Linked DNA regions of Homo sapiens: regions 1, 2, 3, 4 and 6 are each reported to be linked to region 5. Evidence: microRNA targets listed by miRTarBase, many of them from high-throughput screens and not tested one by one. Region 5 holds a microRNA gene; each other region holds the end of a gene's coding sequence. Distances are from middle to middle.
Evidence for each region. Region 5 holds the annotated microRNA hsa-miR-3658 (UUUAAGAAAACACCAUGGAGAU, at 3,314-3,335, shown strand). A microRNA usually pairs through its seed, bases 2 to 8, with sites in the 3' UTR of a target mRNA and lowers its output. Matches are read on the target gene's strand: a 7mer-m8 pairs with bases 2 to 8, a 7mer-A1 pairs with bases 2 to 7 and ends in A, and an 8mer does both.

Region 1: miRTarBase lists BTBD7 as a target of hsa-miR-3658. Seed matches in the 3' UTR shown: 8mer at 4,689-4,696.
Region 2: the mRNA of HS6ST1 is a reported target of hsa-miR-3658. Seed matches in the 3' UTR shown: 8mer at 3,815-3,822.
Region 3: miRTarBase lists B3GALNT2 as a target of hsa-miR-3658. Seed matches in the 3' UTR shown: 7mer-m8 at 1,169-1,175 and 7mer-m8 at 3,457-3,463.
Region 4: miRTarBase lists LEFTY2 as a target of hsa-miR-3658. Seed matches in the 3' UTR shown: 7mer-A1 at 2,802-2,808.
Region 6: miRTarBase lists ZNF529 as a target of hsa-miR-3658. Seed matches in the 3' UTR shown: 7mer-A1 at 4,200-4,206, 7mer-A1 at 3,292-3,298 and 7mer-A1 at 3,274-3,280.

What each region holds. Positions count from the first base shown.
Region 1 is chr14:93,238,822-93,243,927 of GRCh38, reverse strand. It overlaps BTBD7 (BTB domain containing 7), which reads left to right. Exons shown (of 11, transcript NM_001002860.4): 11 at 840-5,106. The coding sequence ends at 1,655. Among named protein-coding and RNA genes, the nearest start is that of UBR7, 34 kb to the right of the region's middle.
Region 2 is chr2:128,264,066-128,269,437 of GRCh38, reverse strand. It overlaps HS6ST1 (heparan sulfate 6-O-sulfotransferase 1), which reads left to right. Exons shown (of 2, transcript NM_004807.3): 2 at 568-3,958. The coding sequence ends at 1,276. Among named protein-coding and RNA genes, the nearest start is that of HS6ST1, 52 kb to the left of the region's middle.
Region 3 is chr1:235,445,854-235,451,225 of GRCh38, reverse strand. It overlaps B3GALNT2 (beta-1,3-N-acetylgalactosaminyltransferase 2), which reads left to right. Exons shown (of 12, transcript NM_152490.5): 12 at 886-4,036. The coding sequence ends at 1,020. TBCE (tubulin folding cofactor E) reads right to left here. Exons shown (of 17, transcript NM_003193.5): 16 at 2,786-2,877; 17 at 1-2,556. The coding sequence ends at 2,464. Among named protein-coding and RNA genes, the nearest start is that of B3GALNT2, 56 kb to the left of the region's middle.
Region 4 is chr1:225,934,036-225,938,035 of GRCh38, forward strand. LEFTY2 (left-right determination factor 2) reads right to left here. Exons shown (of 4, transcript NM_003240.5): 4 at 2,568-3,769. The coding sequence ends at 3,406. Among named protein-coding and RNA genes, the nearest start is that of LEFTY2, 5.2 kb to the right of the region's middle.
Region 5 is chr1:165,904,610-165,909,981 of GRCh38, forward strand. It overlaps MIR3658 (microRNA 3658), which reads left to right and starts at 3,312; the gene lies at 3,312-3,367. It overlaps UCK2 (uridine-cytidine kinase 2), which reads left to right. Exons shown (of 7, transcript NM_012474.5): 6 at 1,312-1,360; 7 at 3,075-5,372. The coding sequence ends at 3,214.
Region 6 is chr19:36,542,565-36,547,936 of GRCh38, forward strand. ZNF529 (zinc finger protein 529) reads right to left here. Exons shown (of 5, transcript NM_020951.5): 5 at 1,049-5,372. The coding sequence ends at 4,302. Among named protein-coding and RNA genes, the nearest start is that of ZNF260, 17 kb to the left of the region's middle.

The DNA of each region.
Region 1 (5,106 bases), not on the chromosome of region 5:
AGAATGGCGAAGGTTGGTCATGTTTGATAAACCAGATTCCCATTCTGTTGGGCCAGGCCCTCAGTTCTACAATTACAAAAGTTCTACTACTTTATATTTTAAATAAAACTCCCTTTAAAGGTAATTTATTTGTCTGTTCATTGCAGTCTTGACTATAATAATGAAAAATGGTAAACAACCTAGATGTCCAATAGTAGCAGAATGATTAAGTAATGGTTCATTGATGCAGTAGAACGTCACATAATAATTTAAAATGGTGATCTCAAAGATTTAGTGACAGATTATATAGGTACTAAATTTCATCAGTATATATGCAAAGGAGAAAAGCATAAAAAGAAAGACCTCAAAATGCTAACAGTGGTATCTCTGTTCAAAAGGTTGGAGTGATTTTTTTGCCTTTATAGCTTTCTGTATTTTTATAATTCTTACAAATTCAGCCAGGAGCGGTGGCTCACGCCTGTAATCCCAGCACTTTAGGAGGCCGAGGTGAGCGGATCACGAGGTCAGGAGATCGAGACCATCCTGGCTAACACATTGAAACCCCGTCTCCACTAAAAATACAAAAAATTAGCTGGGCGTGGTGGCGGGCACCTGTAATCCCAGCTAGTCAGGAGGCTGAGGCAGGAGAATCACTTGAACCCGGGAGGCAGAGGTTACAGTAAGCTGAGATCGCACCACTGCACTCCAGCCCGGGCGACAGAGCGAGACTCTGTCTCAAAAAAAAAAACAAAAACAGAATGTGTTAATTTTATAATTGGGAAACAAAATCAGTGAACATCATTTCTACAGAGGATGGGTCCTTTTTTTAACCCTCCCACCATTTTTGTCTCTGTCTGCAGCGAACACAACCTGTGCTGAATGATCTGATGCCAGACATCGCGGTGGGTGTGTCCACACTGTCACTCAAGGACAGGAGGCTTCCAGAGCTTGCTGTAGACACAGAATTAAGCCAGTCAGTTTCTGAAGCAGGACCAGGGCCTCCCCAGCATCTGTCGTGTATTCCACAGAGACATACACACACTTCTCGGAAAAAACACACACTAGAGCAAAAAACAGACACCAGAGAAAATCCACAGGAATATCCGGATTTCTATGACTTCTCAAATGCTGCTTGCAGACCTTCTACTCCTGCTCTCAGCAGACGCACCCCTTCCCCTTCGCAAGGTGGATATTTTGGTCCCGATCTGTACAGCCACAATAAGGCATCACCAAGTGGCTTAAAGTCAGCCTACCTACCTGGTCAGACGTCTCCTAAAAAACAGGAAGAAGCTAGGAGAGAATATCCACTTTCCCCTGACGGGCATCTACACAGACAAAAGAATGAGCCGATACACCTGGATGTCGTTGAGCAACCTCCCCAGCGGTCAGACTTTCCTTTGGCAGCCCCAGAAAATGCTAGTACCGGTCCAGCCCATGTCAGGGGACGAACTGCAGTAGAAACTGACTTGACTTTTGGGCTGACTCCTAACAGACCTTCACTTTCTGCATGTAGCTCTGAAGCTCCCGAAGAGAGATCCGGTAGAAGACTGGCAGACAGTGAGTCCCTGGGCCATGGAGCTCAGAGAAATACAGATTTGGAAAGGGAAGATTCAATAAGCAGAGGAAGGAGGTCACCAAGCAAGCCGGACTTCCTCTACAAAAAGTCTGCCCTCTGAGAGCAACCTCCAAGTCGTCTGTGCCTGAGATGTGAAACATCCCATTTTATGATGTAACCCAACAACTTACAGACCAGTTCATCAATGCCAGCTGATAACTCGGTTTCACATGATTTTGTTCTAGTTTTTGTGTATATATGTGTTTATTAGACATGGCATGCTAAGAAGGTTTTGTTTTTTTTTTTTAATGTTGCATCTGTCTAATTTGTCTTTGAACAATTATGTCGGGAGGCATTTTTAAGAACAAGCAGGCTGGCACTTTTTATTTCTCTTTACAAATGATGGAATTTTTTTGCACTTGTACATTTATTTTCTCTGTATTGATTTTATATCAGTATGTTAAACTTTATTGCCACATTTAAAGGACTGTATTTTCATACTTTTTTGCATTTTACCTTTCATCTACCAATCCATGTGCATTGGATTGCACACTAAGATGTATTTTCTTACGAAATAGTTCTGTGTTTATTTTTTAATTATAGAAATTCCAAAGAACAGCACATCAGAATGCTCCTCTCTTTTCAGTAATTGTTTTAGTTCAGAGATCTTCCCGCTCAGCCTCCATAAATCTAATGTCATTTTTTTTTTAATAAGTCCTAGGAGCTGGGCTTCATTCCTCCAGCGGGAGTCCAGTCAGGGTCCTGAAGTTTGCTGGTTCAGGAAAGAACAGGAAAGAGAAAAGCCTTCTGTGCCCAGGCTAAAGCTGTTACATTTCCACAGTGTGGATGCAGTCAGAATCCCTGCACATTCTGGTCATAAGGATTAGAGTCACCAGATGAGGCTCTAAACAGATCGCATCCCTTGGAATTAGAAAGCAGTGGAGACCGGGCGCAGTGACTCACACCTGTGATCGGCACTTCGGAAGGCCGAGGCGGGCAGATCACTGAAGCTCAGGAGTTCAAGACCAGCCTGGGCAACATGGCGAAACTCCATTTCTATAAAAAATACAAAAAAAAAAAAATCTAGCCAGGCGTGGTGGTGCGTGCCTGTAGTCCCAGCTACTTGGGGGGCTGAGGTGGCAGGATCGCTTGAGCCTGGGAGGTTGAGACTGCAGTGAGCCAAGATTGCACCACTGTGCTCCCACCTGGGCAACAGTGAGACCCTGTCTCAAAAAAAAAAAAAAAGGCAGTGGAAATAGAGAAGTAACTTAAAGGTCACACTGACAGAATTTCTGGTTCTGAGCGTCAACTCTCCAGCTGTGATGGCGGAACTGACTGCTTGCTGCCTTTAATTGTCTTGCTCTCTATGGGAAAAAAACAAAAGGGCTTCAGTCTCATGGATGTTATTTGGTGTTTGTAAAGATACGTTTTCTTTTAAACGATTTTCAAAATATGTCTAAATTTTGGTGTTGTGTAATGCATAATGCTTTCTCACCAACAGAAAAAAGGAAAAAAATTGTTTTCAGTTAAACACTACATGTCCTACTTGAACTCCACTGGGACGCTGGTTTGGCATTTACTAAACCACTGAGCACATGGGGTCTTTCAGGATCCTCTCCCTTGGAAGGGCAATGTGTGAGCTAAGGACTGTTTTTTTTCTTACTCTCCAATGTAAATATATGAGTATTTGAGTTTTTAAATCACTTCAACATTATTTGAGCATTTACTTTGTATTTTTACAAACACATAAACACACAGCCGTAGCACTTAGAAGAAAAGAGGCTTTCTAAGCATTCCTTCCTCTGCAGGATATTTGGGATCCTCTTTTCTATGTATGTATATATATAAAAAACTATGAATCACTCACACTCACTCGAAAACTATGCAGGGCTAGGGAGCGTTTATGAGCTACCGGGTAAATGAATTACATGCACTTTGAAGTAAATAGGTTTTCTATTGGGTGTCAACAACGCTGATTTCTCCCAAAACTATAGTTTCTCTTACGGTCTTTTCCTCCTTTACCCTGTGGATATACACTCAGGAATAATCTGACATTTTAGAAAAGCCGAACAGTAGATAGTCTCCAAGATGGGAAACATGTCGTGTGTCTGCACGCCCCGGCAAACTGCCGCCACTCGTTCTGCTGCCTGACTGGTTAGCTGCTGTGCGGGTGCGCTCGGTGACACTGGTGGTGGTGCACGCTCCCGAGCTCCCAGAGTTAACACTAATCTGCAGGTCGGCTGTGCATCGCATTCGAGGCTCCTTTTTTAAAGAGAAAAGCATAGGCCTCTGTTCTCATTTGTAAGAAGTTTGACTCATAATAGAAGACGGTGTCTTTTGAAGCCCAGTCTCTGTCTGTCTTCAGAAACAAAAGTGAATGCCGTCATGTTCCTTGATGTGTGTTTCTGCCACATATGTATGTTGACATGTTCATGTACTGCGCCGGTACTGCAAGTAAGACTCAACAGACCTAATTTGGATGGGGAGAAAAACTCTCATCCCTGACCCTTCCCCCCCCGCAAATGTTAGACCAGAGCTGTTGATCCCACACATTCATTTTTCTGAAAATTCATGAACTATTCTCTCATATCCCTGAAATATAAAAGTAAGTGGCCACTATTCCTAAGATTATTTAGTTTATAAAGTTTGCTTTTAATCATACAATAGCTTACCTGGCTAAAACTTTGCGTATAAAGGGAAAACTTGCTTTAATCTGTGGGATTGCGGACCGATGCGACTTGCAGAAGGTAAACAGGCGTGGGTTTTGTGTGCGTTAGGTTAGGTGTTAGTGGACTTTTAATGTATCTTGTGAAGTATGGTTACTAGGGTAGGTTCAAGAGCTACATGCCTCTGGCTTTTGAACCCATCTATTAAATCTTTTTTAATGCTGTACTAAGATAAATGTGAAGTCTGAGTAAGGTTGCTCTCAGAAAAAAAAAAAAAGCATATATATATATAAAATAAAATTTAGGCCATGGGAACTGGCATTTTACTTGGTATAGGAATTTAATGAGAACCAAATCACAAAAATACCAGATCTCCTTTTGAGATCGTGGACAATCAGGCCTTTGGACAATCACCGCTTCCAGTGCCCGCTGTGCGTTGAGGTTAGAGACCTACCGTTTACACGCTAGAGCCGAGAGGACGTTCAAGTTTCTTAAAGATGCTGTTGGTCTTTTTTCTTATGTTATTGTTTTAGTTTTGTGATTTTGATGAATAATTGAAGTTCAGAGTCACCCGTGGCTCCTAAGGAAAAAACAGCATCATGAAAGGCAAAAAGTATTTGAAACGTAATTGTTTCAATTTTCCACGCCCGTTCTCACATGCCCCCTTTAGCTTTATTTCTGGGAACATGTCACTAGACCTCAGCTAGCCTGACACCGCAATAACCCGTTAGGCTTTGAGGCTTTTCAGTGAATTCTTGACATTTAAATCTTCTTATAGAATTCTTTATGAAGCCTTAACTAATTCTTGTTTTTGCTTCCTCAGAAACTTTTTATTGCATCTGCCATCCTTCATTGGATTTTTGTTTTGGTTTGTTGTTGCCATTCTAGCAATGAGCTTAGTCCTTG
Region 2 (5,372 bases), not on the chromosome of region 5:
GTGTCTTGGGGGACAACCCAGCAAGTAGAGTTGGTGTATACGTCATGGCTTCCTCTGGGGTCCTGGGCTGGCTGGTCCGCTGGGCACCCCCCCCCCAACCACCACCAGGCCTTGGCAGGACCCTGGGACTGGGACTGGAGGTGACCCTCGCTGGCCCCTGCCCACCTTCTGTTCCTGCTGAGTGGCTCTTTGGGTGGCACCATGCCCAGGCTGTAAACAGCTGGTGAAGACTGCTGGCCTCAGGCGGCTGTGGCTCTGCGACTTCTCTGGATGCGGTATTGGTGGCTCCACCCACCAGCAGGAAAAAGTCAGGTTGTCCCTCCAGAGGAGCCAGGCCAGGCGCTGCAGGGCACTGTGGTGGTCATCCTGGGTAGCCATGTGACCGTGGCATGCTCCTTGGCATCTCTGATACCGGGTTTTGAAACGACTGAGAGCTAAGTGCAGGAGTTGGTTGGCATTAGAGGCGAAGCCCAAACTCCTGTAGTGGGGACTTTGACTCAGAGCAGCCCTGGTAGCCCCCCTCATGCTGCGTCACAGCCCTCACCTCCTCTCCCCGTCTCCTTGCAGGAAGTTCTACTACATCACCCTGCTACGAGACCCCGTGTCCCGCTACCTGAGCGAGTGGCGGCATGTGCAGAGGGGTGCCACGTGGAAGACGTCGTTGCATATGTGTGATGGGCGCACGCCCACGCCTGAGGAGCTGCCGCCCTGCTACGAGGGCACGGACTGGTCGGGCTGCACGCTACAGGAGTTCATGGACTGCCCGTACAACCTGGCCAACAACCGCCAGGTGCGCATGCTGGCCGACCTGAGCCTGGTGGGCTGCTACAACCTGTCCTTCATCCCCGAGGGCAAGCGGGCCCAGCTGCTGCTCGAGAGCGCCAAGAAGAACCTGCGGGGCATGGCCTTCTTCGGCCTGACCGAGTTCCAGCGCAAGACGCAGTACCTGTTCGAGCGGACGTTCAACCTCAAGTTCATCCGGCCCTTCATGCAGTACAATAGCACGCGGGCGGGCGGCGTGGAGGTGGATGAAGACACCATCCGGCGCATCGAGGAGCTCAACGACCTGGACATGCAGCTGTACGACTACGCCAAGGACCTCTTCCAGCAGCGCTACCAGTACAAGCGGCAGCTGGAGCGCAGGGAGCAGCGCCTGAGGAGCCGCGAGGAGCGTCTGCTGCACCGGGCCAAGGAGGCACTGCCGCGGGAGGATGCCGACGAGCCGGGCCGCGTGCCCACCGAGGACTACATGAGCCACATCATTGAGAAGTGGTAGTGGCGGTGGTGGCCACGGGGAGGCCTCTTGGGGGGTGTGGGGGATAAAACAGGACAGACGACAGGTCCACCCAAGACTGTCAAGGGATGAGCATCCCAAACCTGCTCCACAGAGGTAGCTGCGTCCTGAAAAAAAACAGAGCAGGGATGTAGTGGGGCTGGGCAGGGATGGGGGCTTGAGAAATCAACAGGTGCAGCCCAGTGGGTCAGAGGAAAGCGTGCTCGAAGGATGCCATGGTCAGGGCAGGGCCTCCAGAGCAGGTGTTGTGCCTGGAGCTGCTCTCCTGGCCTCCTTGGATTTATCGCAAAAACTGAAGGTTTGCGCAAGAGACGAGGACAGCGGAAAGTGGACCTGCCAGGCCGGGAGTGTGTCCCTCACCAACTATGCACACAGCACTCGCTCTTAGCTCCTCTGTCCGGGCTACTAGGAGTGAGACCAGCTTCTGGCAACTGCCCCAGCTCCAGGCCATCCCATAGCCCCTCCTCTTCTGGCTGCCCCCAATGCCCCGAGGCCTGGGGAGCCCCCAGCTCACCCATCTGTAGCTCCCTCAAAGTCAGGGCCCACCCCATCTGAGGCAGAGAAGACTCGAGTCCAGCCCCCAGGAAGCCTGCTCCCCTCTCTGGCCCATGGTCCTGCTTCATGCTTTGGGTCAGGAGGCCAAAGCTGATGTTCAGGCCCCACCCACTCCCTACAGTCCTCAGACCAAGGAGGGGTTTGGGTAGTAGGCCCGAGCTGCATTGCCGGCCTTCCTCGGGCCAACTGGCAGCCCAGGAGTGGGGAGGCTTTGGCCAGGGATGCTGCCACTTGTGCGTGAGTCCGCGGCTGGCCCTTGGAGGTGACCATCCAGGCAGGCCTGGCTCAGACTGGAAGGGCTGGGGACCGAGGGCTCCCCTGCCTCTGTTCTCCTTTCTGACCCACTGGGATTTGCTAGCAGGCTGCCCCAGCCCCATCACCGAAACACATACTCAAGAGCTCAAATACCACTGCTCCCACCAGCGTACGGATTAAGTTCATCAGGCTTCCATCGGCTGGAGCATGGGACCATAGCCCCTGCCCAGGAGCCGTACCCTCGGACCACAGTGGCTCTGTATGGCCAGGAACTGGGACTCGAGCTTTCAGATTCTCAACTAGCCTTGGCAAAACAGCTGTAGGTGGCCTCCCTGACAACAGACACTCAGCCCTCCCCACCCTGGCTCTCCTTGCATTTCCCCATGCTCCCCACCCCCTGGCAAAAGGCTGGCCATGCTCTGTTCCCAGCAGCCGCGCAGGTTTCCCCACTGGCTGCAATGGCCCTACCAAAAGCCATGTTGCATATCCGTTGTAAGCACGTGCCCTGTGCCCTGTCCCCATTCCTTATGCCCTAGGAGGCCAAGCTGGTGTCTCTAGGAGGGCCCACACAGGCACCCTGGATCCCCCAGAGAGTAGATTGGTGTGCTCAGGCCGCAGGCTGACTCAGAGGTAGGGCAGTGGGCTCTGCAGGCCACCTGGCTGGGGTTGGTGGGGGTCCTCTCTCCTGCCCCAGCTTCCACTCAGCCACCACAGTTGCCACACCATGGGGTGGAGACGTGGGTCACCACGGGCTTGGGAGCAAGCGCCTTCTGCAGCACAGGAAGCCGAAGCTGGGGTCAGGTGAGGTCGCTACCCCTGGAGGTCTGGCATAAGGGCCCCACCCTCAGGTCTCCTACACTGGCCCCATTTTACTTTGGGGTCCAAGGACAGGATGGTCAACAGGGCAGGGTGGACAGCGTGCCAGCGCCGCGCAGGGCCACCTCCCTGGGTGGATGCATCACACTAAGGAAGTGAGTGCCAAGGGGATTTAGTGGTGTGGTTCTTTCAAAGGGAGGTCAGGGTCAATGGGAATCTGCTCGGACACTCAACATGGGGGTGGGTGCACTCCTTGGAGGAGGAGGAACACGTTCAGGGGATTGTGAGGTCTTGCACAAGCCACGTGGGGCACCTTGGCTTCCCGGCAGGAGGTGGACACCCAGCCAGAGGCCTGGCTCAAGGTGACCTCACCTTCACCATGGGCTTCCTGGGTGCGCGGGCCTGAGCGCAGGTTGTTTTGTACATATTGGAATATGTGTTAACTTATGCCCCGCATCCCAACTCACACGGAAGCACGGGTCTTGTCTCAGTCTCTTCGCTGCATTTGGAAAGCAGTCTCCTCTCGGGCCAGCGCCGGGCTGAGGTGTCCAGAGGCGGCGGCAGCTGGCAGTGCCCTCAGCCCCCAAGTGTCCAGCCTGGCACTTCCCATTCAGGCCACCTGCTTTGGGTCAACAGTTCCTTTGCCAGCAGCATCTCCTAAATTGTAAGGACTCTGTCCACCGGGGCCCTCCCAGGGCTGTGAGGACGGAAACAGGCAGGGAGTGGAGCTAACAGCTTAGTCACCAGGACCCCCAGACCTGCAAACGTCCCCTCCTGGAAGGGGAAGCCAGGAACAGCAGAACTGCCCACAAAACAAGGCTGTGAACTTTTCGGGAACTGGAACTGTTTAACTTGAACCCAGGATTGTTTAAAGCTTTATTTATTTATAGCTTCTTCTTAAAAAAAAGTGTTGAAGAAATTTTTTGGTTATTCATACAAAAAAATGAGTTGATGATGGAAAAGCAAGTCATAATCATCTAATTGTTTTTGTCTAGGTCGAGAATGAATGTTAGCTGATGAAATAAACCCTGACAAGGAGTGGCGGGTGTGCTGTGGTCTCTGCGGGCATAGCTGCCCCTCCCAGTGGGGTCTCACACCACGTCCCAAGGGCGGGGTGCTTTGCACAGGTGCAGGAGGCTCAGTGAGGAAAGTCCCATTAAGTAAGGCATTCTGAAAGAAAAAATGGGACTTTGTCATCACCATAAAGAGTAACCGTTTATTAATCATTAGTGATAGTATTTGGGAAGATGACACCAGTTGAGAGGGAGGCAGGTGCCACTGAGTTACATTCTCATTAACCTCTTCCCTCCCTGTCTTTGGAAATTTTGAAAGATTTCAAATGACAAAGAGAGTGGAGGAATAGTTCATGGACACCCACATGCTCTTGGCCTAAATTTTTCACCTTCTCTTATCCTGTGCCCACACTTTCTCATACACGCACACACGCGCGCTTTTCTGAAACATCTGAAAGTAGGTTGTGATCATCAGAATACTGCACTCCTAAATCCATCAGCTCGTGTCTCCTAAGGACGTTCTGCCACAAAACTCAACCCTGTTATCCCAGCCCCCCCCCCAGATTTTATAACAATACAGTATTTTCCAATATCCAGATCTTCTGGTTGTCCTAGAGATGTCTTCAGAGCATTTTGTAGCCCCAGGACCACACGGTGCCCCATGTGCCTCTCCTGTCTCCTTGAATGGAGGAGAGGGTCCCAGCTACCCCTTCTTTTTTCCGTCTTTCTTAGGATTGACATATTTGACTAGTAGAGACCAGTTGTCTTAAAAGGTCTGCTGATGTTGGCCGGGCGTGGTGGCTCACACCTGTAATCCCAGCACTTGGGGAGGCTGAGGCGGGCGGATCACGAGGTCAGGAGATCGAGACCATCCTGGCTAACGCGGTGAAACCCCGTCTCTACTAAAAATACAAAAAATTAGCCGGGCTTGGTGGCGGGCACCTGTAGCCTCAGCTACTCAGGAGGCTGAGGCAGGAGAATGGCATGAACCCGGGAGGCAGAGCTTGCAGTGAGCTGAGATTGCGCCACTGCACTCCAGCCTGGGCAACAGAGCAAGATTCCTAAAAAAAAAAAAAAGAAAAAAAAGAAAAAAAACTACAGATGTCAGTTTCCTAGTGGTCAGATTCGGTGAAATTGGGTAGGAAGGCCCTCGGGTGAGGCACCTTCCATCAGCCCAGGTGTCCTGTGGCTCTGTTCCCCAGATGAGGGAAGTCCAGCCTCCCCACTCAGCCCCTGGGGAAACCCAGCCATAGTGGTCACCTGCCAGCTCATACCTGCCACCATCCCAGTGACAAAGGTCACCAGGGTGTTTCTGGGAGGGTCACGGCTTCTACCTGCCACCATCCCAGTGACAAAGGTCATCAAGGTGTTTCTGGGAGGGTCACGGCACAAGTAGGGCAGGAGTCAGAACGTAGCTGCCTTCTTAAAACCCCAGTCTC
Region 3 (5,372 bases), 70 Mb from region 5:
ACTGAGACAGACAAGCTGAGTGTGTTTTGTTTTATCACCCCTGAGGCTGTGGCCCCTCAGAGATCCTAGCTCTGTGTCAGTCTCCCATTAGTCTCCTGACCCTGGGCTTGGCCTTCCAAACCCAAGGATCAGCAGCTGCCTTCAAGGCACAGGCTGACTCAGTGCTTTCTCCTACCCTGTTTCTTCTTTGATCACGGAGTTGAGCCATGCTTTATAAAGGTTTTTAATTTTATCCAACATTTTTGTGTTGTCAAAACATTGAATGAGTTTCTCTCTGTGTTCTGCTACATTGCTGGAAATAGAAACCAATTCACGTAGCTAGGAAATAGTCTAGTGGTTAAGAACTTGAGCTTGGGAGTCTTTAATCCCTCCTCTTCATTTACCAGCCCTGTGACCTGGAACAAGTTTTTTAACTCTTCGTTTGTTCCTCAATTGTTAAGAGGGAAATAGTTCCTACCTCACAGCATTACTGTGAGATTTAAGTGAGATATTTACAAAGCACTTGGTACAGTCCCTGCAATATTGTAAGCATTCCATCAGAATAATAGCTGTTACTAATACTGCCATAGACACACCTTTACTAGCAAACATGAAACTCACTTGTGGTTTCTAAAATCGTTCATTACGGAATGGCATTTGTTGACTAACTCTTCATCCACACACCGCCTTGTTTCTGTATTCCACAGCCACAGGACTGTGGGACCTGGTGCTTTCCCAAATCAGGAGGTGCCACCCCCAAACCTCACCAGTTGTTCCACACACGGAGTTATCCTTGAAATAATTTCAGCATCATTAGAATACATAAAAGCTGTCTACGTGCATACTTTCTGATGCTCTTAAAACAGTTTCACCACTCTCAGATCGGCTTTGGTTGTTTCTCAACAGGACAGTCTGTGGCTGTGTGAGAAGACCTGTGAGACAGGAATGCTGTCTTCTCCTCAGTATTCTCCGTGGGAACTGACGGAACTGTGGAAACTGAAGGAACGGTGCGGTGATCCTTGTCGATGTCAAGCAAGATAACAGGGACTTGAATTAGCAGAGTCTAAAATCAGGGCAGGCAAACGATAATCTGAGTGCAAGTCTGAGGAGTCCCAGGGTTTAGCAGTAGACTGTATGGTCTTTCAAGAGAGTTCCAGACTGGCACTTTCACCCAGAACCAATGCGGTGTTTCTTAATGTTTGCACAAATTTCCTTAAAAATCAACTTGTACTGTAGCATAAGAAAAGTTTTTATTTATCTATTGGAAGATTATCAGAAAAATACCAAGTTATTTTATAAAAGAAAAAATATTTCTAAATCCTGATGCATTGTGGCTAATTAGTAATTCACCATTACCTATAGTTTTTGGTTAAAACTTGGCCTAGTTCAGAAATCTGTAGTAGTAACTGAGAGTTTGAATTTCAACCTGGATTGCAGGATAGCTCTGTAGAGCTAATTAGGATAATTATCAGACAAAAAGGAACTCACAGGAATGCTGTGTGATCATGTGATCACATATTTGAGCAGTGGTCACTTATACCAAAGTTTGGGGTTTCTGGAAATAATGTCAGATTTTGTGGATCTCTGAAGTGGGCAACTTGAACTAACTTGAAGAGGAACCAATATGATTCTCAGTTCTGAACCTTGGTTTTAAAGAAGTTCATTTATATGGTAGACTAATACCCAAATTTTCTTTCTGCCATCTAACATAAATCCTGAAGGTCACAGTTTAGTACTCATAGTTTTTAAATGCTAAAGTTGTGTGAGTATGAATAAAAGCAAATACCTCTCAGGGTTTTAGTGCCATCGGGAAGGATATTTCTAAATTTTGTTGACATTTTGAAAGAATTAGTTTTGCTTTCCTCCTATCATTGCCTAATGTTTACCTAATATGAGTACATTTCAATCAAAGCTGGTTATCACAGAAGAAGATATACTCAGCTTAGGTATAATTGTAGGGAAAAGCATGTGATTAATTTAAGTACTCTTAGAAATAGTGCAACTGAGAAGACAGATAATAGCATATTGTTATACATAGTAGAGGATGTCTCCCCAAGTTTAAGGGACATTTCCCAAAATGACCAACCAAATCATTTCTAGTAACCCTTTAAAATAGTAGTTTCAATAGAGAATTCCATTAAAACTAGTCTTATGACAGATATTAACTGTGTTCAGATTTTATTAGGCTAGCTAGTTTCTTTCTATTTAATATTTAAATCTTATCATGAAATGCAGTGATGAGCTGTAAAAATAAATATGAAATAAGATCAGAAAATCATTAGTAGGTTCAAAGCCTTTATTATTGCTATTATGTATAAGCCTAGAAATGGTCACTTCCCAACAAAAAATACATCCCTTGTTATACTTAGGACAAGTTGTAAACCCCCTTTGTTTTGACAGTAGAATTGTTCCAGTGAATCATTTATTTCCGGTGAACCCCAGACACGATAAGCAGTGTGGTCTTTAAATTTTATTAGTTGGTTGTCACCATCGCACTAATAGACAATCTCCATTTTCCACAGAATAAAACTGTAATGACTTTAGGTCATTTTCCAGCTCGATTTCTCTGCCCGGCTTCTAAAATTAGAACGAAGGTGGGGAAGGATGTGATTAAGACAGATCCGATAAAGCATGCTACACATACTCTTCCCCCACCCCGTCCCCAGGCAGTAGCTTACCCTTAAAATCAAACAAACAGACCCATGGTCTCCATTTAGAATCAAACTGTTGCTATCTAGAGACAGTTTAATGTCATAATACGAGGACTAAGCTTGACTTTGACTTTGTATTTTGCTGGGCAACTTACTTTGGGACTTTCATAGGACAACAGAAGGTCTGACACAGGAACTTTGAGAAGACGTGACAGCAATCCCTTCACCTTTTGAATTGTCATGGAGCCTATCAAAAGACAAGAAAAGTCCATTCGTTCTCTCAAATGACAGTTACCTGTAAAACTAGCTCATGTGATGAGACCACAGTATCATTGCAATGATAGCTGTATCTGTCTTTTTTTTTTTTTTTTTTTTGAGACTGACTTACTTACTTACTTAAGTAAGTCTTGCTCTGTCGCCCAGGCTGGAGTGCAATGGTGTAATCTCGGCTCACTGCAACCTCCGCTTCCCGGGTTCAAACAATTCTCCTGCCTCAGCCTCCTGAGTAGCTGGTGCCCATCACCACACCCAGCTAACTTTTGTATTTTTAGTAGAGACGGGGTTTCACCATGTTGGCCAGGCTGGTCTTGAACTCCTGACCTCGTGATCCGCCCGCCCTGGCCCCCCAAAGTGCTGGGATTACAAGCATGAGCCCAGCGCCTGGCTGTATCTTTCATTTTACCCAAGTCACTTTACCCAAGTAAGTAATTAGGGGAAAGCCTGAGTCTTGTACCACCTGTTCATTTGGGGAACTGTGGGAAACGGAGCCAACGGACCTAAGTGCCCTTTGACAGTGAGTTTCATACCATTTCAGTAGTGTATTTCTTTCTTAATCTGAATAAACCAGAATGATACTCTCAGCACAGAAGAATAAAGGGAGCGAGTCATTAACGTTTTCTTTTTAAACCTTTATGATGACTTCCTTATGAATTACTGAACGAACACTGGAATGGGACTCAGGTATCCTGAGGACATCTCTCAACTCTGGCCTTAGTTCCCCCTCTGTAAAATTAGGGTGCCAACTAAATGATCTACAAGGTCCCTTCCAGCGCCGCCATTCTGTAATTACATCATGTGTAACTGTATTAAACATACACAAGTGACTGCCAGGCATGGGAATGTAACTTCCGAGTAAATGCTTTGGTTTGTTCAGAATACACTATGAACTTCTTTCCAAAGACGGGTTGTGGTAAATAGTGGATATTTTGATTATAAGAAATAGAGTTTCCTTGAAGCTTTAGCTGGAGATACAGCAATAGTGTGGTGTTCCTACAAATATCACAGTGTATTCAAACATATTTTTCTATCAAAAATCATTTTTGTAAAAGCTGTGTGTTTTTATCCAACTTGTGATAATAAATGTTCTTTATTTTAGAATAAAAACTGGCCTTTTTGTATGTATTGAATACAGTTAATAGAATTTATAATTTTAATTAACAATTTGCTCTTTCATGTGTGAATATGTGATAGTCTAGTCCTTTCAAAAGATTGAGACGGACTGGCTTTCATTGTTTGAAGGCTGGTGAGAGAAGGGGTTACCTGCTGCACACCAGTGGGGAGTGACATACTCCTAACACATGCCAGAAACAAAAAGTTTGGTCATAAAACAGTTCTAATAAGAAATCTGCCTGGCCTGCTCACACCTGTAACCCCAGCACTTTGGGAGGCAGAGGGATCAGAGCCCAGGAATTTGAGACCAGCCTGGGCAACATGAGGATACCCCATCTCTACAAAAAATAAAAAATTAGCCAAGCATAGCGATGTACGCCTCTAGTCCCAGCTACTTGGGAGGATCACTTGAGCCCAGGAGGTCAAGGCTACAGTGAGCCATGATCGCGCCACTGTACTCCATCCAGCCTGGGTAACAAAGTGAGAACCTGTCTCAAAAAAAAAAAAAAAACCTGCCTACTCATACCGGTTCTATAGAAGAAAGTAGCAATCTCTATGTAATAAATAGCATTACCATTTTTAATATAGTAACATGACTGTCTTAACATTCAGAAAATATGGAAATAGCTGATTATTTCTTTTTACCTGCCTATGACCAGTGTTAAAAATTTGAGAGGTATACCTCTAGGCCTTTTTTTTTCTGTGTTCATATAAGGATGTATAGGTTTTAAGCCAGGCGCAGTGGCTCACGCCTGTAATCCCAACACTTTGGGAGGCCGAGGCGGGCGGATCATCTGAGGTCAGGAGTTTGAGACCAGCCTGGCCAACATGGAGAAACCCCGTCTCTACTAAAAATACAAAAATTAGCCAGGCATGGTGGCGGGCACCTGTTATCCCAGCTACTTGGGAAGCTGAGGCCGGGAGAGTTGCTTGAACCCGGAAGGCAGAGTTTGCAGTGAGCCGAGATCATGCCACTGCACTCTAGCCTGGGTGACAGAATGAGACTCCGTCTCAAAAAAAAAAGGATGTATAGGTTTTATAATATATTGACGTACTACATTTGTATTTCTTTATGACATGATGGTATAGCTTTTCATGCCAATTCCATGCCATGTCCTCTAGCCATACACTGCCCAGTATGGCAGCCACATGTGGTACTGAGCACCTGGAAAGCGGCGAGTATGACTGAAGAACTCAATTTATTTTATTTTAATGAATTTAAATAGCCACATGTGGTTATTGCAGCCACACTGGACAGCGCAGCTCTAGACTGCTTCACTCTCCTCGGTGACACACGACAGTGCCTTGTGTGCTGTGTGGTTCCACCAGAGCTTATTCACCATTCCTCCGCTG
Region 4 (4,000 bases), 60 Mb from region 5:
TCACCATGTTGCCCTGGCTGGTCTCAAACTCCTGAGTTCAGCCAATTTGCCACCTCGGCCTCCCAAAGTGCTAGGATTACAGGCATGAGCCACCGCGCCTGGCCTCTTTTTATCCTTATTCTATAAACTTTTTCTATTAAAAAGTTTATTTTTTTTCTAATTTTTAAGTTTTTTGTTAAAAAATAAAACACAAACACACACAGTAGCCTAGGCCTACACAGGGTCAGGATCAGCAATATCACTGTCTTCCACCTCCACATCTTGTCCCAGTAGAAGGTCTTCAGGGGCAATAACATATACGGAGCTGTCATCTCTTATGATAACAATGCCTTCTTCTGGATTCCTCCTGAAGGAACCGCCTGAGCCTGTTTTACAGTTAACTTTTTTTTTTTAATAAGTAGAACGAGTACTCTAAAATAATAAAAAGTATAGTAAATACATAACAGTAACAGTCACTTATCAAGTATTATATACTATATATAATTACATGTGCTGTGCTTTATTTTATTTATTTTTTGAGATGGAGTCTCACTCTGTTACCCAGACTGGAGTGCAGTGGTGTGATATCAGCTCACTGCAACCTCCGTCTCCAGGGTTCAAGTGATTCTTCTCCTGTCTCATCCTCCTGAGTAACTGGGACTACAGGCACCCGCCACCACGCCTGACTAGTTTCTGTTTTTTTAGTAGAGAAGGGGTTTTACTATATTGGTCAGGCTGGCCTCGAACTCCTGACTCCAGGTGATCCACCCTCCTCAGCCTCCCACAGTGCTAGGATTACAGGCGTGAGCCACCATGCCCGGCCTAGCATGTGCTATGTTTTTATACAACTGACAGCACAGTAAGTGTGTTTATATCAGCATCACCACAAACACATGAGTAATGGGTTGTGCTAGGACATTATAATGACTATGATGTCACTAGACCATAGGGATTTTTCAGCTCCATTGTAATCTTATGGGACCACCATTGTGTATGTGGTCTGTCATTGACCGAACTATCATTTTGCGGTATATGACTGTATAACTTTCTCCATAGACAAGCATAAGGAAACCCAGCTCAATGGGAAAGCTAAATGGAGGGGAATTGCATAAGACAGCTCCCAAATGACATTTTAACCTGATGCCTGTGTCATCAGCAGAGCAGCTTATTGGGGACTGGCATAGGAAGAAGTTTATAACCCATTCTGTGGGATAGAGATTCAACATGCTCGCATTACCTCAGGCTGTTTCTTCATCTAAAAAATAGGATTAATAATACCCACCTTATGGGATAGCTGCAAGAATTAAGTGACATGTGACAATGCCTAGTCCAGTTCCCTGGTTCATAGTGAATGATAAGAAATGTTAGCTCGCTTACCACACTATTGTCAACCCCCATTGCCCATCACCACTATTGTAGGGGTTACAGTGCTTTCTAAAGAGGAGGTAGGCCGGGCACCGTGGCTCACGCCTGTAATCCCAGCACTTTGGGAAACTGAGGCGGGCGGATCACTTGAGGTCAGGAGTTCAAGACCAGCCTGGCCAAATAGCAAAACCCCGTCTCTACTAAAAGATGCAAAAATTAGGCTGGGCACAGTGGCTTATGCCTGTAATCCCAGCATTTTGGGAGGCCAAGGCGGTCGGATCACCTGAAATCAGGAGTTCGAAACCAGCCGGGCCAACATGGTGAAACCCAGTCTCTACTAAAAAAATACCAAGGGCCGGGCACGGTGGCTCACACCTGTAATCCCAGCACTTTGGGAGGCCGAGGCAGGTGAATCACGAGATCAGGAGTTCGAGACCAGCCTGGCCAACATGGGGAAACCCCATCTCTACTAAAAATACAAAAAATTAGCCGGGCGTGGTGGTGGGCGCCTGTAATCCCAGCTACTTGGGAGGCTGAGGCAGGAGAATCGCTTGAACCTGGGAGGCAGAGGTTGCAGTGAGCTGAGATCACGCCACTGCACTTCCGCCCAGGTGACAGTGCGAGACTCATCTCAACAACAACAACAACAAAACCCAAAAAATTAGCTGGCCATGGTGGTGGTCGCCTATAGTCCCAGCTACTAGGGAGCCTGAGGCAGGAGAATTGCTTGAACCCAGGAGGAGGAGGTTGCAGTGAACCGAGATCATGCCACTGCACTACAGCCTGGGCAACAGAGTGAGACTCCGTCTCAAAAAAAAAAAAAAATTAGCTGGGCATGGTGGCACATGCCTGTAATTCGGGAGGCTGAGGCGTGAGAATTGCTTAAACCTGGGAGGGAGGCGGAGTTTGCGGTGAGCCATGATCGTGCCACTGCATTCCAGCCTGGGTGACAGAGCCACACTCTGTCTCAAAAAAAAAAAAATGAGGCTGCAGTGCTTGCTTTGGCAACACATAAACTAAAGAGGAGACATCCGTGAGTGATTGTTTAATATTTTTGGAATGAGAGTTGTGTGAGAAAATAGAAATATCATAAATGAAAGCCTCATCTATATAAATTTAACTATTATAGTCTTGCGCCCTAGAGGTTGGGGGTCCTTTCTTCAGATCATTGTGTTGCTCTCATTCCCCATTATTGCTCCTGGAAATTAAAAACAGACACAGAGTGAAACATCATTTTTTATTTCTTCTGAGTATCTACATTCAATTGCTTTAGCTAAATTAACAAAAAACATGCAAATACATGTGGTTTCTGGTGACAAGTTCTCTAAGACAGTGTGGGAAATGACCTAAATATGCACGGGCAAGGCTCAGTCTCCAGAGGAGTGGGCAGGGGTAGGTAGGGGCTGTCTGATCCCCAGGGCAATGAAGTTCTTAGAGCTGAAGCCCAGCTCCTCCTTTTTAAGAGGAAATGACGAGCCAAAGCCTTCTGCGTTTGTTAGAGATCCTAGCTTGTGGCCCTGTCAGAACCAGAATCCAGGTATCCCAATTCCCTGTCCACTGCCCCCAGCCTGAAGCCCTTCATCCTTCCTCTTAGCACCCTCTCAGGGGAACAGGGGCCTAGGTATGTTTACAAAAGTCCAGAATGGGTCAGTATTTGGGGGAAATAGAGATTTGAAGGTTTTAATTCCTCATATAACACAGCAATTCAGTTCTGTTTCCCCAGTTCTAATCATAGGGTATTATTGTTCCAGACTCAGTGAAGAATTTGCCAGAGAACAGAAACTCCCAGCTGAAAATGTGTGCATTGCTCAGCTGTATCTTGTAATCAGCATGCCAGCATTTCCTACTAGAGCTCAGCATCTGAGCTGCATTATTTACTCACGTAAGTGCTTAGGATGGGTGATGGACGGGAAAGACAGGAAATGGAAGGACACAGGGCGAAGGTCACACAGGAGCACTAAATTGGGATGGAGTAACTTGCTAAGTATAAAGTTAAGACCTACATTAAGACCACCTCTATGCACACGTTCAGTTAGAGGGCTCAATGGATACACCAGGCGCCTATGGCTGGAGCCTCCTTGGCACGAGCGCCCCATCCGAGGCACAGCTGCACTTCTGCACCCTCATGTTGGGCAGGCTGACCACCTGGGGCCTGGTCCTGCCTCCCTCCTTGATGCTGACGATCATGGGCAGCGAGGCAGTCTCCGAGGCGATACACTGTCGCGGCCCCAGAAATGGCCAATTGAAGGCCAGGGCCTCCGGGGGCTGCTGGCAGGTGCCCACACACTCGTAAGCCAGGAAGCCCGGGGGCTCCAGCACCCAGTTCTTGGCCCACTTCATCCCCTGCAGGTCAATGTACATCTCCTGGCGGCAGCAGCGGGTGCCCTCGGTCATTGGTGCTTCAGGGTCACAGTCGCCCTGAGCTCTGTGTGGGCAAGGAGAGCAGGGTCAGAGGTCATCTGGGAGGCTGAAGTCAGAAGGCCTGGGGCACAGCTTAGTGGGCACCTGGGAGGGAGGTTTATGATCCAGCTCTCACTATGTTCTAAAAGCTGGATATTTGTGAGAAGATGAATAAACATATCTGAAACATAAATAATAAATCAGCTACTATTAATTAAAGGTCTCCTAATAGGCCAGACAATGAACTAGGTACTTC
Region 5 (5,372 bases):
TGCTTCCACTGTCCAGCCACTCTTTGCTCAGGGAAGATCAGCTCATTCCCCTGTAAGCCAGGAACTTGGACCTGATAAATGTCTGCTCAGTTCAAGTTGGGTTTGGGGCTGACACCGTTGCCTTTCAGCAATCCTAGGGCAGAGGCTGCACAGAGTAAGATGCCCACATGCTTGAGGTGTGGTTTATGTGTTCTTATGCTAGACTTAGTTTGTATGCCAGGATGCAGTTACTTGTAGAATGGTCTACAAAATCTCAGTAAATTTGGACCAACAAAAAAGAAAAAGAAAAAAGAAATATGCCTCTTTGTGGCCTGACTTTCTTTCTTTAAAAATTGGGTAATAATAGAACCTATGAACTGGTCATCAGTGAAGAATACTTTTTCTGGTTTTACCCTGTGCTAGGAGTGAACAGTGTCATGTTTCAGACTATGTGTAAAAGTCCAAGGTGAACCAGTCCCCTGGAAAGTTTGGGTTTTTCTAGTTCATATTTGTCCTAGTGGAATAGAGGCAATTAAGTGTTTGGCTTCAAAGACCATGTTCTCTGCATAGGTCATAAGCTGAAACAGTGTTCAGCGTTAGAAATGAGAACTTGGTTGGGTGCAGTGGCTCACGCCTGTAATCCTGGGACTTTGGGAGGCCCAGGTGGGTGGATCGCTTGAGCCCAGGAGTTTGAGACCAGCCTGGGCAACATGGCGATACCCCCTCTCTATAAAAAATAACAAAAATTAGCTGGGTGTGGTGGCGGGTGCCTGTAGTCCCAGCTACTCAGGAGGCTGAGGTGGGATGATCTCCCCAACTCAGGAAGTCAAGGCTGCAGTGAGCTGTGATGATGCCGCTGCACTCCAGCCTGGGTGACAGAGTGAGACGCTGTCTTAAAAAAAAAAGAGAGAGTGAGAGAGAATTTGAATAAAAGCTAAATTCTTGTAATGTAGATAAAGTGGATAAAAATCCATGGTAGATAGTTATCAATCGAATTATGAACTGGTTTTGGATTAACCACTCAGTCTGGACCATTTTCCCTCACTGATGCATGAAAGTCTTCAATCCTTCTTTCTCATTTTCCTCATTCCCTGCTTATCTTCTTTCATTCACATTTCAGCTAAACAAGGCACTTCCTTAGGTTTCCCCAAATTTCTATTAATAGATGCATTCACTGTGAAGTTGTAAACAATATTATATTTGAAGCCTTAAAAGGTGCTCTTCTGGGCTCGCTAGTATGAATGCTGCCCTTTCCCCATATTCCCTTGGAGAGGGTCTCGGGCCAGTTGTCTCTTAACTGTATTAATGCATATTAACTGTCTTTCTCCACAGACAAAGAAGTATGCTGATGTGATCATCCCTAGAGGTGCAGATAATCTGGGTGAGTCCCTGCAGAGTGTCATCCTGGAGTATAATGTCTGCCCTTTGTCAGTCATAATTTGGGGCAGGATGTGGTGACCCTACAGGGCTCTGCAGACATGGCTGCCCTGCTTGTCTGTGATTGTGAGCCAGCAGAACCTTTCCACCTACACGTCTGGCCTCAGGAACAGGTCCCTGGGTGTAGGCACCCATGTGTTACGGGGACAGACATGCACTTGTGCTTCTCTGGCAGAATAGAGGGCTGTAGATTACCTTTTACTATCACTTCCCAATGATGACACTTGGGTACTTTGCTTCTGAGGCCACCTTTTAGCAAAAGCAGATTCCCTCCTTGATCTAATTTAGAATGACCTGCCATCACGGTAGCCCTTTCTAAAGGGAGCTGGTTGCTACCATTATTGTACTTATTTTTCATTTTATTTTATTTTACTTTAGAGACGAGGTCTTGCTCTGTCACCAAGATGGAAGTGCAGTAGCACAGTCACAGCTCATTTGCAGCCTCCAATTCCTGGGCCCAGCCTCCCGGTAGCTGGGACTACAGGCTTGCACCACCACGGTCCACTAATTTTAAAAAAGTGTTTTTGTAGAGATGGTTTCATTATGTTGCCTAAGCTGGTCTAAAACTCCTACCTCAAGCGACCCTTCCATCTCAGCCTCCCAAAGTGTTAGGATTACAGGCGTGAGCCATAGCACCTGGCCCCATTGTTTTATTTATTTTTTTGGCCTGTCTAGGAAGTATGAATGTCTCTGGACTAGGCGTAGTGTGGCAGAGTTGATCTGTAAAATAGGACCTGGTTTCTTCATTCTCTTTAGAATTTATTTAATTTTCCCTCCATTTAAAAAGATTATTTCTTGAGCTGTTTGGGAGTAAGTTATAGCAATAAATATTTAACCCTGTATTTTTTAAGAACAAAGGCATTCTTATTCATCAGCAGAATGCAGTCATTAAATTCAAGACATTTACCATTGATATGACCTCTTTTAACCTGGAGATGTTCCCTATCTTTTGTTTTTTAAGACATTTTTGAGGCGTACAGGCCCATTGTTTGGTAGAATGGTCCTCAATTTGGGTTTGTCTTTTATTTTCTTATGATTGGTTTCATGAGCTTATACAGTCTGAAGGAATTATCCCAGGAGAGATGTGGCGTGGTCCTCTTTGTGTATCACATCAGAAAGCATTTGATGTGTATTCCATTTTTGGTGATGTTAAATTGACCTCTTGGTTGAGGTATATAATTTATTTCTAATGCTAATAAAAGATAGCTCTCTGCATTATATTTTTTGGAGGGAAAGAGGGCCTTCCATAGGGATGCTCTGTCTTAGGATGGAAAACTGGAAGGTTCCCTGGTGGAAAGGTCTCATAGCTAATTGACGTGTCAGAACCATGGCTGGTTACCACGTCTGCAGACTTTGGCCCGAGTGCTTCATCCAGTGGTGACTGATCATCTCCTGATAAGAAGCCCATTCATTAAGGGCTTACTCTGTGGTAGGCATTGTCTATCTTACTCCTTAGAGCCCTCCTGTGAAGGAGGAGGATCATATTAGCTCAGGCAGAGCCACTGGGAAGTTGGATGACTTGCCTGCAAGTGGCAGAGCCACTTCCCTGGAAGTCTTTCTACTGTGGTTCCTGCATGCCCTTCCCCCAGACAGACTCCCACACTCACCCCTGCACCCATGCCTGCACCCGTAACGCTCTGCTGGTCTCTGCCCCACAGTGGCCATCAACCTCATCGTGCAGCACATCCAGGACATCCTGAATGGAGGGCCCTCCAAACGGCAGACCAATGGCTGTCTCAACGGCTACACCCCTTCACGCAAGAGGCAGGCATCGGAGTCCAGCAGCAGGCCGCATTGACCCGTCTCCATCGGACCCCAGCCCCTATCTCCAAGAGACAGAGGAGGGGTCAGGAGGCACTGCTCATCTGTACATACTGTTTCCTATGACATTACTGTATTTAAGAAAACACCATGGAGATGAAATGCCTTTGATTTTTTTTTTCTTTTTGTACTTTGGAACGACAAAATGAAACAGAACTTGACCCTGAGCTTAAATAACAAAACTGTGCCAACTACTACTGGTGATGCCTAATTATGAATCCAACGTGTAACCAGTTATAAATACATATATATATAAAAAAGGATCTATTTTTGTGTAAATGTACAAATACTGTAAAGCTGTTTGCCATAAGTATTTTGCAGGAGGGTCTGTACTTGAGTGTTTTAGGACTGGAGCTGGAATTTCACCAAGGGGAAATTGCCTGTTGTGTCCCAGGGTGGGGAGGCTCGGGCATCTGTGAGAGACAGGGAGGGTGGCTAAGGTCCAGTTGCTTTTGAGTGCCCCGTGGAACTTGATGGGAATGGGGTTGGAAAACCTTGATTGCCTCCTCTGTCACATGCCACTCTTGGAGCTGGAGCTTAGTGATATGTCAATGAGAGATACTCTTGTCTTTTTTTTTTTTCTTTTCTTTTTTTTTTTTGAGTTGAAATTAGGTAAAATCTCAACTCAAAAATCAAACTCAGGGAAGAGGCCCACTGAGGAGAACAAGTCTTCTGCATTTTCTTCCTGCCCTGCTCCCACCTTCTCGCCTCTGGCTGCTTGGATAGCTTGGTGACTCCTTCCTCACCCTCCTGCTTCTCTGTCTCTCCAAGAAGCCAGAGCTGCCTCTTTCCTTCCCTGGAAGAGATTTTATGGGATCGCTTCCTGATAGAAGATGGGAAGGAGAGGGCAGAACTTTGCCTGCTGTCATATCTGAAGAATCACTGGTTCTTTCTGCATCCCAGGGGCGTAACTGATCTGACTCCTTGGGCTTTTTCCTGTATTGTGGAATATAGAGTGGACCATTGCAGGCTGGGTGTGGGTGAGGGCTTCGGTAACTGATGCCGGCAGCAGCGCCTCATGGAGTGGCAGGGGAGCTCTGTCTGTGGAGGGGTAGTAGTTTCCGCTTCCTGGAGGTTTGCAGTGAGGTGAGGAGAGTAACTTTGGTCAGGGATTCTCACTAGCAGCGTCATGGCCAGGATGCTTTACTTATTTGCAATACCACCTAGTGGATATGGCAACTGCAGAGCATAAAAGGGGCTCGGAAAAGCAGTTTTTACAAAGTATTTAAAAGGAGAGTATTTAAATCATAGGTACCTAAGTTGGAGCCTGAGGTTGAAATATTTGGGGTGGAGATTTCTAGCTTTCCTGAGAGCTGCTGCTTGGTGGTAGTGTTTTCTCTGGAAGTACAGATTCCTGACATTCTGGGTGGAGGGGAGCCCAAGTGAGCCTGAAGGAGTTCTGATTATAGAGTCCCGAGCCTCAGTTTCTGACTGCAGAAGAGCCAGAGATGTTCATTTCATTGTTGACCACCCTAGTGCTTGGTGGACTGTGCCCTTAGCTATCCCACTGTGGCTGCCATTGCCAGAAACATTTTGGAGAACCTTTTCTTCCCATTGCTCTCAGAGCCTGTTCGAGCCATTCAGGTAAATTGGTCTCCATTATTACCTGGTCACACCAGATTTTCCCCCAGACTCAGCACCATCCAGTCTGATTCCCCGTTTCTGGGCTCAGTTTGACTCTAAATCTGTTTTGCTATTTTAAAAAGTCAAACCTGGTCCCCAGCAGAGCTTGCCACCCGGAGACTTTCAGGAGACCGTGCAGGCTCTGAAGGGAGCTCCCAGTCACAGCAGCCGCCTACTTGGAGCAAGGGAAGGCTCCCAAGATGCCTCCTTTGAAAGCCGGTGCTCACCAAGATCAGTTCAGGATCAATCATTATCCTTGTAGTCATGCCTTGATCAGTTCTGAGATGAAGCAGGGAATGCAGGCCTGGGTTAGTATCCTGAGGACACAGGGCCCCTGGCCTTGATGGCACTGGGCTGTGCTCAGGTGAAGCCCACCCGTGTCTGGGAGAGCCTTGGCTTTTCAGTGGGCAGCATGCTCAACTTTACTTGAAGCTCCCAGGTGCCAAACCATTTAGTGCCTTGGCTGTTTATCCCACTGCCTTGGAAGATGGACTCCTCTCATCTCTGAGCCT
Region 6 (5,372 bases), not on the chromosome of region 5:
AACTATATGCTGTCCATAAGAGACTCAGTATAAATCCCAAACTGTAAATAGTTTGAAAGTGAGAGGAGTGGACAAAGATTCCATGCAAATAGTTAAGCAAAAGAGAGGTAGGGTGGCTATGCTAGTATCAAACAAAATAGACTTTAAGTCAAAAATTTTTACAAGGGACAAAAAAGACACATTATATATTGATAAAACGGTCAATGCATCAAAAGATATAATAGTTATAAACACAAACACACCAAACAGCCCCAAAAGAAGTGAAGCAAACACTACAAAAAGTTGCAGGCAAAAAAAAAAAGTTCTACAACAGTTGGAGTCTTCAAAACTTCACATTCAATAATGGATGGAACATCTACACAGAAGATCAAGAAGGAAATAGAAAACTGGAAGATTATCAACTAACAACACCTAACATGTACACAACACTCTACCCCAAAACAGCAAAATACACATTTCCTCATTTTTCTCAGTATGGTTAAGAATTTCCCAAATCTTCACATTTTAGTTTCTTATTGCTTAAGAATTCCTCCTTCAATTCATCTCTCTCCTTTCCTGTTTTATATGCGCAATAAAGGGAACCCAAGCCACAAGTTCAATAATTAGAAATCTCCGCTACTATTCAGTTTTCATTGGTTGGAAGCGCTACCTTCCACAAAACACTAGAACATGATTCAGCCAAGTTCCTTGCTACAATAACCTGTTTCTCATTTCTGAGACTAAAACATTATGGCCTTAAATGTCCATATTTCTACCAACATTTTGTTCATGATTGTTTCTTTAACATGAATACCGTTCATGACAGGATTCTTTAAAATGGAAGCTTTCTCTCCAGTGGTTCTATTTTTTTTTTTTGTCCTCCCCAGAATCATTTTTACATCCATATTTCTAGCATCTACCCTCAGCATTCTTCTAGCCTATTTGCCCACCACCCAGTTCCAAAGCTTGGACTTGCACATTTTTAGTTTTTTGTTATAGCAGCACCCCACTTCTCAGTACCAACAACTGTCTTAGTTTGCTTAGGGTGTTGTAAGAAAATGCCATAGACTGTGAGGCTTAAATACAGATATTTATTTTCTCACTGTTCTAATTAAAATAGGGATTAGCAGGTTTAATTCCTGGTAAGGGCTCTCTTGGCTTCTCCTTGTGTCCTCATGTGGACTTTCCTTTGTGTGTGAGCATAGGAAGAGACGTCTCTCCTTCCTCTTCTCATAAGATCACCATTTGTATCAAATTAGAATCACATTCTTATGTCCTCATTGCCCTATGTCCAAATACAATCACATTGCAGGTTAAGGGGTGAATTCTGGCAAGTTGGAGTTGGGGTGGGGGGTGGCGCAGGGGTTATATAACTCCAGAAATCTCAGTCACAGACTCTTTACCTGTCCCTAACATACATATATTAGTTGCCATTAAATTGAATTCCTTCAAGGACATATAAAATTTAATGGTGCAGGACAGCAGAAAACAGGATGAGACTGCAATATCCTATCCTATTGAATATGAGAATAAAGCTCCTATGCAGGCTTAGAGAAAAGTCAGAAAGAATAAAGGGGCAAATGAAAATGGAAAGAATGGTGAAGTTTTATGTTTTTGAGTAAAAATAGTAAAAACCAAACAGTAATACCACCAATAATAATTATATTATGGTTTCGAGTAAGTGTGAAATGCCATAAGTTCATTACGAAGTTAAGTGAAAAATGTTAATATGATAAAAATATAGCTGTAACTACAAACAAGGAAAACATAATAAGGACACATTTTATTCATTAATTTATTATTTGTTAATGACTTCAAAAAGTAAAAGCCAAGACACAAGGATATTTTGTTTCTCTCACTAATTTTAATGTCTGTATACAAGGTTTAGATATTTAGTTTTAATTTGTTTAAGCTGGAAGGAAAAAAACACACACAAAGAAATATAGGACAAGTTCTCCTGGAGAACTATACCCAAAAGAGGAACATTAGCACTGATGGTAACTCAGGATAAAAAGGGAGAATGAGATCCAAGAGTAAATTAGCTGTGTTGTTACATAAATAGAATTTAGTTAGAAATAGAGCTACTACTCTATTTCAAAGATATGAAATAGCAAATATCCTGACAAAAAGGTTAACATACTCTTGTTCTTACTGTGTAGGACATGAAACAACAACCAATTACATATCTTTTAAAACTACTTGAATAAGCAATACTTACATAAAACATAGCTCAATATATCAGATGAGAAAATGGCTTAATACTGGTAATCATTCACACCGTTATAGAGTACATAAATTCTGGGAAAGACATCAGTTTCAAAAATTAAAATGTAATGAATGACAGTGACATAAATTTATCTGAAAATAATAGTAAAATTTTCTTATAAAAATCAAATAACCGGACAGGCGTGGTGGCTCATGCCTGTAATCCCAGCACTTTGGGAGGCCGAGGCAGGGGGATCACAAGGTCAGGAAATCGAGACTGTCTTGGCCAACGTGGTGAAACTCCATATCTACTAAAATACAATTAGCTGGGCATGGTGGCGCATGCCTGTAATCCCAGCTACTTGGCAGGCTGAGGCAGGGGAATCGCTTGAACCTGGGAGGTGGAGGTTGCAGTGATCTGAGATGACACCACTGCACTCCGGCCTGGTGACAGAGCAAGGCTCTATCTCAAAATAAATAAATAAATCCAATAACCAGGCTGGGTGCGGTGGCTCATGCCTGTAATCCCAGCACTTTGGGAGGCTGAGGCGGGTGGATCACCTGAGGTCGGGAGTTTGAGACCAGACTGACCAACACGGAGATATCCCGTCTCTACTAAAAATATAAAATTAGCCGGTCATGGTGGCGCATGCCTGTAATCCCAGCTAATCAGGAGGCTGAGCAGGAGAATAGCCTGAACCTGGGAGGCAGAGGTTGAGGTGAGCCAAGACTGCGCCACTGCACTCCAGCCTAGGCAACAAGAGCAAAACTCTGTCTAAAAAAAAAGAAAAAAAATCCAATAACCAGTGGCTCGTGATCTCATTGACTGCATAACCAAGTCAGCAGTCCTAAGAGAGAGATGATTTTGGAGTTAAATGAGATTAGTTAAACCAAAGAAGGTCTGCTGATTGTTGAAATGCCCAAACCTAGTAAGTCAACTCTGAGAGGGAATAAAAAGAAAAATAATGATAATAGATTAAAAAAACAATTGAAGCCATGTTAATATATAGTTGTAAATTCTCTTAATGTAAGTTCAGTGGTCATTTTTTCTCCCCTTTTAAAGGTGTTTGACAAATTTTAGAGTGATACTTTAAGAGAATGATAAATTTTAAGAGACTTACTGGGTGAGTAGTTTTATCAAATATTTAAAAGAGTTCTCTTCATTTGGATCCTGGTTGGTATAGCCTGCAGGTAAAAAGACTGCTTAAAGGAACTGGTTATATTCCAATATAACACACATACACACTATATATATATAGTGCCCAGTATATAGTGTATATACTATATATACATATATTGTGTGTGTGTGTGTGTATATATATATATATATATAGTGTGTTATGTAGTGCATGTGTGGGCATATATAGTATACATCACACACATATACATCACACACTATATACACACATATAGTATATGTGATATGTATAGTATACATCACACATACACTATATACACTATATGTGTATATACACTATATGTATATAGTGTGTGTGTGTGTGTGTGTGTGTTATGGTGGAATATAACCAGTTCCTATGTATGTGTTTTTTTGGGGGGAATATGTTGTATCAAAATAAAGTAGAAATTTAAAGAGAAGTCAACAATTGGATGAAAATGGAAAGGAGATCACACTTCTATCATTTAAAACAAAACAAAACAACATTACACAAAATGATGAGCTGTAAGACTGTAAAAATACATTGTATCTGACTAGGAGTGCTAACTCTGTGGAGGAAAATAAGTAAGTATAGATATCACAAGCAAAGAATTACAATGCAGAAAAGATATTGAAGTAATATTACAATTAAAAAACTGAATAGTCAAAAGAGCAATAATACAAACATCAAAAGCTATTGTAAACAAAACATGCCAGGATGAGAAACTCATGAAAAAAACTTTTTAACATAAAAAGGAGAAATATTTGGCAACATCTAACAAAGCTATAAGTATATATCAGCTATGACTAAGCAATTCTACGTCTACATACAGAATGACCATGAAGTCTAAAAACAGACTTTAAGAGAGGGAGATACTGAATTGCCTTGATTACCTATTAAATCCATCCACAGTATTTTCCTGTGAAAATCAGAAATAAAAAACCACTTTATACATTTATTTCAGTCAAATGATTTCTCACCAGTGTAAATTTTCGGTTGGCAAGTAAGATGCCCAACAACACTAAAGGAATTCCCACACTCCTTACATTCATAGGGTTTATCATCAGTATGAATGCGCTGATGTTTGGTAAAGGATGAACTATGTCTAAAGGCCTTCCCACATGCCTTGCATTCATAGGGTTTTTCTCCAGTATGAATTCTCTGATGTTCTGTAAGGGCTGAACTATGTCTAAAGGCCTTCCCACATACCTTACATTCATAAGGTTTCTCACCACTATGAATTCTTTGATGTTGAATAAGGGCTGACGTAAGTCTAAAGAACTTTCCACACTCCTTACATTCATAAGGTTTTTGACCACTGTGAATTCTTTCATGTCGAGTAAGTTCACTACCTACTCCAAATGCTTTCTCACATTCTTTACATTTATAGGGTTTTTCACCAGTATGAATCCTCTGATGTCTAGTCAGGGATGAACTATTTCTAAAGACCTTTCCACATGCTTTGCATTCATAGGGTTTCTTACCAGTATGAATTCTCTGATGACGAGCAAGTTCTCTACATACTCCAAAAGCCTTCCCACATTCCTTACATGCATAAGGTTTCTCACCAGTGTGAATTCTCTGATGTTCAATGAGCTGTGAACTAATTCTAAAAACCTTCTCACAGTGCATACATTTGTAGGGTTTCTCACCAGTATGAATTCTCTGATGTTCGGTAAGCTGTGAATGAAATCTGAAGTCCTTGCCACATTCCATACATTTGTAAGTTTTCTCATCAGTATGGATTTTCTGATGTCGAGTAAGTTGTGCATGCACTCTAAAGGATTTCCCACAGAATGAGCATTCAAAGTGTTTCTCACCATCATGAACTCTTTGAAGTGGAGTAACTTTTCCAACTCTTTCAAAGGTCCTTCTGTATTCCTTACATTTATAGAACTTCTCATTATGAATTTTCTGGTATACATTAAAGTCTTTATAAAAACTACATGTATTCCCATATTCCATATATTTACAAGGTTTCACACCAGTATGAATATTCAGTTGTAACATACTGGAGTTATCTATCCCAAA